2 linked regions of the Homo sapiens genome follow. The protein of the gene in region 1 interacts with the protein of each later gene in a pairwise test. Each region holds a gene or a part of one and is shown in the gene's direction. Other genes may lie near its edges.

Region 1 (5,562 bases):
AAGGCTACCATGGGCCAAGCACTCTGCTGGGTACAGCGATACAGATACTGTAGCTCCCCCTTATCTGAGGGGGACATATTCCAAGACCCCAGTAGATGCCTGAAACCTGGGATAGTATTGAACTCTATGTTTTTTCTCATACCTATGATAAAGTCTAATTTATATAATAGGTGCAGTAACTAATAGAACAGTTATGACAATGTAATAAAGGTTACATGAATGTGGTCTCTCTTTTTCAAAATATCTGATTGTACTGTACTCACCCTTCTTGTGATGATGTGAGATGATAAACTGCCTTCCTGATGAGGTAAGGTGAATGACAGCATTGTGATATAGCCTTAGGCCACTATTGATGATAAGTCAGAAGGAGAATCATCTGCTTTAGGTGATCTCAGATCATTGAGCCACGACAATGTTGAGCAGATGTTGATGACTAAAGGGCAGGTAGCATATACAGCATGGATAGGCTGGGCAAAAGGATGATTCACATCCTGAGCGGGATGGCTAGAGATTTCATCACGCTATTCACAACAGTGTGAAACTTAAAACTTATGAATTGTTGGCCAGGTGCCGTGGCTCACGCCTGTAATCCCAGCACTTTGGGATACCGAGGTGGGTGGATCATCTGAGGTCAGGAGTTCGAGACCAGCTTGGCCAACATGGCGAAACCCCATCGCTACTAAAAATAAAAAAATTAGCCAGGTGTGGTGGCGGGCACCTGTAATCCTAGCTACCCAAGAGGCTGAGGCAGGGAGAATCGCTTGAATCCGGGAGGCAGAGGTTGCAGTGAGCCAAGATTACGCCATTGCACTCCAGCCTGGGCAAAGAGCGAGACTCTTGTCTCAAAAAACAAACACACAAAAAGTATGAATTGTTTATTTCTGGAATTTTCCATTTATTTTCAGACATTGGATAACTCTGGATAATGAGAGACTATTGTACATGAAACAGACTTTGTCTTCAAATTGCTTTACTCAGACTCATTTGAGAAAAGACAAACCAAACAATAAAGATTTATAGTGTGCTGCACAATCCCTTCATTATGGCAGCAGAGGAGAGACCCCTAACTAATCACGAGGTTGTAGGATTGTGGGGGTAGGGGCTGGATAAGGGAAGCTGTGGTATAGTAGGGTGGCTAAGAGCATTCTTATGCACTAGGGTCAGACCTAAGTTTGAATTTCATTTCTACTATTTACTATTTATATATGACCTCCCATGAGTTACATCTTGGCCTCCCCCATCTGTAGAAACATAACAATACCTACCTCATCACTGAATTTAGAGTATTAGGCAAGACAATGCATGCGAAGTGTTTTGCACAGTGATTAGAATATAGTGTGTGTTTAGTAAATGCTAGTTAGCTTTTGTTTTCTAGAGGAGAAAAATCCTTCAGCTCAATTCTAAAGGATGAGAGAAGTTAGTCAAGCAAAGAAGGAAGTGGAAGATTTTCTAGGTAGAGGGAATAAATGTGTTCCAAAACACTAAGGCGTGAAACTGCCTGGCATGTTTGGGATGCAGGTGGGACTTAATGTTTGAGGTGGATTACAGAACTTGAATATGGAGAAAAGGGGGTAAAAGAGGAATATAAGATGTCTCTCAGGTTTCTGTCTTTGGTGGATAATGGTGCCATAAGGAATGTAGGAAGACAGACAATTTTGGGGGAAATGTAAGTTTATTTTAGGATTTTGAGTTTAGGTTTCTTGTGGGACACCCAGGTTAAACATTCAGTAGACACTTTGATTTTTAAATCTTGAGATACAGTAAGAAATCTGAGTTGGAGATACAGATTTGAGAATTGAGTTTATGGATGATAAAGCCGTGGTTATGGATAAAAATGATCACTTTCCATAGTTTGTACAGAAAGTGAAAAAAGAAGTAGAACAAGAGTGGAACCACTGTTTTAGGGGAGCTAAAGAGAACCCCTCAAACTTCCCTCAGGAAACTGAGGAAGTGTGATAAGTGAGTTTTGAGGCTGTTCCTTGATTAACATTCTCTTGCCTTTGTTTATTCTGGAGAGAACACTGGGTAAAACATTACAAGATTTATCACTGCTGCAAATTTGAGCCACATATGTCCCTTACAAACAAGATGGAAGCAAATAACACATTGTGTTAGACACTTGTTTTACCTTCTGTTACTGACTGAGACAGGGTCTCATTCTGTTGCCCAGGCTGGAGTGCAGTGGTGCGATCACGGCTCACTGCAGCCTCAACCTCCCAAGGCTCAGGTGATCCTTCTACCTCAGCCTCCCAAGTTACTGGGACTACATGCGTGTGCCACCCTGCCCAGCTAATTTTTGTATTTCTTGTAGAGATGGAGTTTTGCCATGTTGCCCAGGCTGGTCTTGAACTCTTGGGCTCAAGCAGTCCACCTGCCTTGGCTTCCCAAAGTGCTAGGATTACAGGCATGAGCTGAGCCACCGCTCAGGCCTACCTTCTGTTATTCAATTACTGCCATTTGAAGTAGGTTGTGTTGTCCTCCATTTATAGGTGAGGACATTTTAATTTCAGAGGCTTTAGTTAACTTGCCCAAGGTCAGTAACTGGAAGAGCAGGATTTTTAAATGAGGGACTTAAGAATCAGGTATTTTTTTCACTTATGCCATGATTATGTTAGAGGTATTTGAGCAGAACCCTGAAGGAGTGGATGGATTTGAACAGGTAGCAGTGGGAATAGAAAGTAGGGAATATGATAAGAGGAGAGTAGTTGAATAAGGCCATAGAGGTCTTTGAGTGCATGCCAAAGAATTTATGACTTTTTAACATAAGCAGTGAGGAAGTCACAGAAGGATATATGTTATATTATTAATTGTTTAACTCTTATATAAAATAATACATTTATTGTCGGAACTGCAGAAAACAAAGGAAAAAGTTCAAACCAGGAAATAAATTGCCCATAATCCAACTATCCAGAGATAACTTTTCTTGCCATTTAGGAGTATATCCTTTGAGAGATTTTTTCCCCCCTCCTTTGTCTTTTTGTGTATATATGTGTGGATGGAAGGGGGAGCTTTTTTTTTTTTTTACATATTTTATAAAATTAGGATTATACTACAGTATGTACTGGTTTGTAATCTGTTTTTTAAGCCTAATAGTATATGTTGAACATTTTTCTATGTCATCTAAGTGTTAGGAAGATTAAATTAGCAGTGTGTAGGGTAGGTTTGGGGAGTCTAAAAATAGGATCATTTAGAAGACTATTGCAGTAATTCAGATAAGAATGTAATGAACATCTGAACTAGGGTTATGTCAGTGAGCCTAAGAGAAATTGCTAAACTAAGTGCAATACATTTGGCAGTTCATGGGATTATGGTATGTTCAAAGATGAACCTGGGTATGGTGGCAAGTGCCTGTAGTCCCAGCTACTCAGGAAGCTGAGACAGGAGGATCACTTGAGTCTGGGAGTTTGAAGCTATAGTGTGCTATAATTGTGCCTGTGAATAACCACTTTTCACCAGTCTGAGCAGCATAGGGAGACCCCATCTTTAAAAACAAAACAAAAGATGAAACTAAGGTTTCCTACCAGGAGGCCTAGAGTGATGTCAGTAGCAGAAATAGAAGAGATAAGATCACTTCAGCTTTGAACAACATGAGTTTAAGATATCCATGGGACATTTAGGTGGAGATGATCTGTAATAATAGCAGCTACTATTTATTGAAAACTTGTTATATGATAGATATTGTCCTAAGTTCTTGATGTAATTACTTAATCCTTACAACATTCTGTGAGGCAGGTATTATCTGTATTTTATTGGTGAAGAAACATCAGAAAAGAAGTAATTAATACTTATGCATTCTGTGAGACAGGTATTAATCTGTATTTTATTGGTGAAGAAACATTCAGAAAAGAAGTAACTTGTCATGGTCTGACGTTAAGCCATTTCTGTCAGGCACAAAAAAGCTCCTTCCTCTAACTTGTAAATGTGGGACTAGAATTTCTGAAAAGGCCTGGTTTTGCAGGCAAGTAGAATAAAGGCAATTGCTGGAACTATAGAAGTAGCTAAGAATGCCACTTGAAATAGTATAGGTTACCCTGATTTGATTATATGAATATATCAAATTATCACAATACCATGAAAATATGATTATGAATCAATAAAAAATAATTTCAAAAATAATGTAGGTAATGAAGAAGTGCTATGAATAGAATCTTAGATCCTGTGGCCATTGTGGGAGTGAAAGAGGAAGAACTTTCAGAAAGGAGAAAGAAGGAGGCTTGAGATAGGAAGGAGAACTGAAGGGACCTGGAAACCAAAGGGGAGTCGAAGATCTACATTGTATCGGGCACTTGACCTATTATCTCAGTTAGTTCTCATTGTTACCCTGTAGCAGTGATTCTCAACTGGCATTATCTTTTCCTAGGAGACATCTGGCAGTGTCTGGAGACATTTTTGGTTGTCACAAATCAAAGGGGTTGCTACTGACTTTTAGTGGGTATAGTCCAGGGATTTGTTAAACATCCTATAATGCCTGAGACAGCCCTCCTAGCAAAGAATGATTTGGCCTAACATGTCAGTAGTGACAATGTTGAGAAACCCTGCCCTGTGGTATATTATATTAAGTCCATTTTATAAATGAGGAAACAAGGAAAGTTAAGTGACTCAGTCATATAGCAAGTAAATGGCAAAACTGGGATTTCAACCCAGGTCAGAATAAGAAGTTTGGGTTCTTTCCACTTTACTATGTTGCTACTTGGATCCCAGTACTTGGGGAGGCTGAGGCAGGAGGATCTCTTGAAGCCACGAGTTTGAAACCAGCCTGGGCAACATAGTAAGACCCCCATCTCGGGCTGGGCGCAGTGGCTAACACCTGTAATCCCAGCACTTTGGGAGGCTGAGGCGGGCGGATCACAAGGTCAGGAGATTGAGACCATCCTGGCTAACATGGTGAAACCACATCTCTACTAAAAAATACAAAAAGTTAGCCGGGCGCATTGGCGGGCGCCTGTAGTCCCACCTACTCGGGAGGCTGAGGCAGGAGAATTGCTTGAACCTGGGAGGTGCAGGTTGCAGTGAGCCGATATCATGCCACTGCACTCCAGCCTGGGCGACAGAGCGAGACTCCATCTCAAAAAAAAAAAAAAGTCTCTACAAAAAAAAAAAAAAAATTTCATGAAGAGAAGGGATGAGTACTATTATTTGATGGAGTAATAAGGTCAAAGAAGTTTTCTTTGACAGAGAGTTGAGTATGTTCTTCAGAAAAGGGGGCACTGAACTGAAAAGAAGGTAATTAGTGGAGCAGTATCCCAGATCATGCTTTTCCAGGTTCATCCAATCATAACTCTCTACCTCTTCTATTCTTCTATTGAAACCAGTAAGAGTAAATGTCATGTAAGAAGACCCTAGGACATTTTGGAGAGAAAGGTAATGATTATAGATTTTTTCCTAAAATTATTAAAACTATATGGTAAACAAAAAAGAAAACAGGAATATAAATTTGCTTTGATAAGAAATTAATATTTGATAAGCCAGGAATAATATATTAACAGAGATTTTTAGAGTTAAGACAAACCTGGGTACAGGTATGATTTCTGCACTTCACTAGGTTATTTTATTTTTTATTTT
Region 2 (4,098 bases), on another chromosome or scaffold:
TTCTAGGATCCTGATGATGACCACAAGGGCAGTTTGTTTCAGCTGTCCCTGGGAACACTTCCCTGAAAGCGCTCAGGGACATTTTCTCAGGCACAGTGCTCCAGGCTACGGACTCTGATTGTTCCCTGTGGCTTTGGGGCTGGGCATCGTAGTGAAATAGGACAACAGGGAGATGGTGAGTGTGTTTCCCAACTGCAGATGACAACAGGTCTATAAGCATAAAGTCATCATATAACTTAAAGAAACCTTACCCTCGGTGAAATCTCCCACAGATCAGCAAGAAATAGACTAACAATTCGGTAGAAAAATGGGGCTAGGATATAAACAGTTCATAGGAAAGGACACCTGATATCATTAATGATTAGGGAGAGAAATTGGGTAGCTAACAGCAGGGGTGAGAGAGAAACTTTATAGTATTTTCCTCTGTAGCTTTTGAATTTTAAGACATATGAATGGATTTTTTTTTTAATTGTAATTAAAGTATAATTTTTTTAAAAGAGAAATTTTGGAGTCATTTAACTTGTAAGACAAAGGCTATCTTGTAATAAGAATACTGTTCTTCCTATTTGCTCTAGATTTTAAGTTTGGATTGGCATACATTGGTTTTCTTAGGGCAGAACCCACTCTACTAGACCTATTTAACCCCATGACAGAGCCTAGAAGGAACAGGTGTAATAGAAGATGGCATTTATGGCAAGAAGGTTGATCAAGTTCTCCATTAGAATTTGAACCAGATCTAATGCCTTTTCTTCCCTTGTTTAAGAACGGCCCGGGATGTTGGACTTCACGGGCAAGGCCAAGTGGGATGCCTGGAATGAGCTGAAAGGTAATTGTTCTAATCAATTTCTCTCATTTGTGAAACCCAGTAGTGAAAGAGTCTTCATTATGAAGTGTAAGGGAAGAGGAGAGAAAACAAAGTCAATGGGGCACGTGTGGGAAACCAGCCTGACCTGTGCCAGAATGGGAAAAAACCGGGCCACCTACTTTTTCTCCTAACACCATTTATGCCTTTTCTAAAAGCACCATCTCTGAGCAGGAGCATCATCTAGAGAGGAGGGGCTGGGAACCAGGCCACTGAAAAATAGTTTGGGAAATGATGTAGTTGGCGTAGGCTTTGGATGTGTTCAGAATAAGGGGTGGTTTCCTGTCTGCAACTCCCTCTCCCCTACAAGGCCAGGCGGTGACCCCCTAACCCCAGTGGCCCTCCCCAGTTCCTTCCTAGCCAGAAGGATACATAAAAGAAGGGAATGAGCTAATGCATGGCCTGCCGCTGGCATCGTAGGCTCAGTGAATGGAGCCATTATATGCTAAGCACCAGCAGCCAAGAAGTATCCAAGCTCGTACTTAATCACGTGCCACCTGCAGCAGCAAGACCCAAGAGTTGGCACCAAAGCTCCTGGCAGCATTAGTGTTCCTGCTGGCTAGTTTCTGAATAAGCCCTCTGTCCTTCTGCGAATGAGAAACCCTTGAATTCAGAAAGGGCCACAATACAATAAACACACTCCTAGGATCTGCAAGTAACTGGGAAGGGAATGCCCATCTGCCTGCCCATTTTCATGGGACATTTCCATACCATCCTCAGGCCCCATGTACTCTCCAGTGCTTCAGAACAAGCTCTGAGTTCCAAAGGGTCTCTATCCTTCACCATAGAATCCAGGAAACTGGGTGTCACTGTCTCTGAGGGATACATTCAGTGTCCTTTCTACTGCAGCAAGAAGACAAAGATTTGTCTCATTCCCCTCCAAGAAGCAGCCACTTTTGGTCAGAGTTCCTGAAACTTTTCTCATAGCCTCTCTCTGGGGAGAAGAGGGTGCCTGGCTTTGCTTTTTCACTGCCAGCTTAACAGCTCTGGAAGATAGGAGCCCAAAACAGAGACACTGAAAAGGCCAAAGCCAATATCAGCCACGAGAGTTAGCAGGACCAGTAAAGTCACCACGATGACAGTTTCCTACCTGTCTGGAGGGTGGCACCTCTCTCCCAAGGCTCACAATGGCCATTCCCCCAGGACAGGTGGGGGACGCAGGTGTCCAGCAGATGGGCGACAGATCTTGGCCAGCCCCACCAGGCTTTCTGAGCACAGTTGCTTATGGAGCATTCACTTCGGGCCAGGTTCTGTGGATACTGTCTCCTGTAATTAGTAGAATCTCAACTTTATTAAGTGAGAAACTGAGCCTAGGAGAGTTACAGCAGAGCTGCCTGGGGCTCTGGAGGCTGCTTGTTTCCTACCATGCTACCTCCCTGACACATAATCCTGTCGATTCCTTACAGGGACTTCCAAGGAAGATGCCATGAAAGCTTACATCAACAAAGTAGAAGAGCTAAAGAAAAAATACGGGATATGAGAGACTGGATTTGGTTACTGTGCCATGTGTTTATCCTAAACTGAGACAATGCCTTGTTTTTTTCTAATACCGTGGATGGTGGGAATTCGGGAAAATAACCAGTTAAACCAGCTACTCAAGGCTGCTCACCATACGGCTCTAACAGATTAGGGGCTAAAACGATTACTGACTTTCCTTGAGTAGTTTTTATCTGAAATCAATTAAAAGTGTATTTGTTACTTTAAATAACTTTAGTGATCTGAGTTCTTGAGATCATTTACTCTGTCTGACCTCAGCCTTGCTTCCTTTTTCTAAAGACCTCTGGTAGTGCTTCAGCTGCATACCTGGTAGAGTATAAGGTGGGCAGTCCTGCCCTGCACCCTGGCCTAAGGTGTGCTGGCCCTTTGTGGGGAGGAGGAGGATGGTAGAAGTGACCTTTCTCTCTTCCTTCCCAGTTCAGCCACGCCGAGGAAGATGAGGCAGGCTGGCTGAGACCACAGTCTGCAAGTACTTCTGACGGGGACGTTCCTGCCCCAGGACCTGTGTGAGGCAGGGTTTACAGTGCTTGAGGTTTGTCTGAGGCCCAGCTGGTCCCTGATTCCAGAGTGCATGAACCAGAGTGGAAGCCCCCATCAAGAATGGAGTGTGAACCTGACAGGAGGCGTTCCCCAAGTCCCAGGGGAAGCCACAGACAGCTGTGTGGGCAACAGTCAGTGGGCAAGGGGTGTGTCCTCTGCAAGGAGCAGAACCCTGGGAGCTTGCAGAGAAGAAAGGCTGGAGCTTGACTCTGGAGGACGTAGGAGGTAGATTGTTGAAAAGTAATAATGAAGAAAAGGAGATAGCTCTCTAGACCCTTCTTGCCAGATGTTCCCTTCCAGCTCTTGGGTTTACAATCCCGCTGCCCTTTGCAGTGGGGATCATACCTCAATATTGTGTAACGGGGATTACTGTGCCCATTATGTGAGTGAGGAAATTAAGGCTCAGAGGTGATTTAACTGGATCCAAGCCCAGGGCTCACTGGCCAGGAGGGCCCTGTTTGTCCCCCTCCACCATGTTCCCTCTCATGGCCCCTGGCTGCCACTTAGTCTGCACCTCTGCTGTGTTGCAGTGAGTGACATCTGTCTCTCTGGGCTAGCATAAGGTGCTGGTGTGAAATCTGTCCCTTGGGCTGTGCAGCTCACTCCGGAAGAGTGGCTTAGACAAGGAGGTCCCACTTCCAAAGCTGGAGTGAGGCACAGATGAGAGAGACTTTTAGGCACCTCAGGTGACTAGGTCATAGCCGGTTTGGGAGATGCCCTCCCCGCTCACTAGAAAGTACTTGTACTGGTTTCTCAGAAAGCAGTGTTTGTGCAGTTCTGAGAGCACCAGCAGCCTGGGGCTGCACCTGCTCCTGTGGCTCCCACAGGAGTCCTTGTACCACCCAGGGCTGGCTCACAGGGTGTCACTTGGGGACAAATTATCAGGGAAACCCACCCCCAATATTTCAACATAGGCTGTTTCTATTTTCCATAAGTTTCAGCCGGCTGAGAAATAAAGAGAAAGAGTACAAAGAGAGGAATTTTACAGCTGGGCCGCCAGGGGTGACGTGACATATCAGTAGGACCGTGATGCCCACCTGAGCCTCAAACCAGCAAGTTTTTATTAAGGGTTTCAAAAGGGGAGGGGGTGTAAAACAGGGAGTAGGTACAAAGATCACATGCTTCAAAAGGCAAAAAGCAGAACTACTAATAAGGGTCTAACAAAGATGACATGCTTCTGAGGGAACAGGACAAAGGGA

The links.
Region 2: the proteins of PFDN2 (region 1) and DBI interact in binary tests that used the Homo sapiens proteins (3 or more experiments, as listed by UniProt).

What each region holds. Positions count from the first base shown.
Region 1 is NC_000001.11:161,110,363-161,115,924, reverse strand, and holds part of PFDN2 (prefoldin subunit 2), read left to right. Parts: intron 1-5,312; exon of another isoform or gene 5,313-5,361; intron 5,362-5,562. UniProt on the Homo sapiens protein: Binds specifically to cytosolic chaperonin (c-CPN) and transfers target proteins to it. Binds to nascent polypeptide chain and promotes folding in an environment in which there are many competing pathways for nonnative proteins.
Region 2 is NC_000002.12:119,369,977-119,374,074, forward strand, and holds the end of DBI (acyl-CoA-binding protein), read left to right. Parts: intron 1-763; coding exon 764-826; intron 827-2,268; coding exon 2,269-2,342; 3' UTR 2,343-2,567; downstream 2,568-4,098.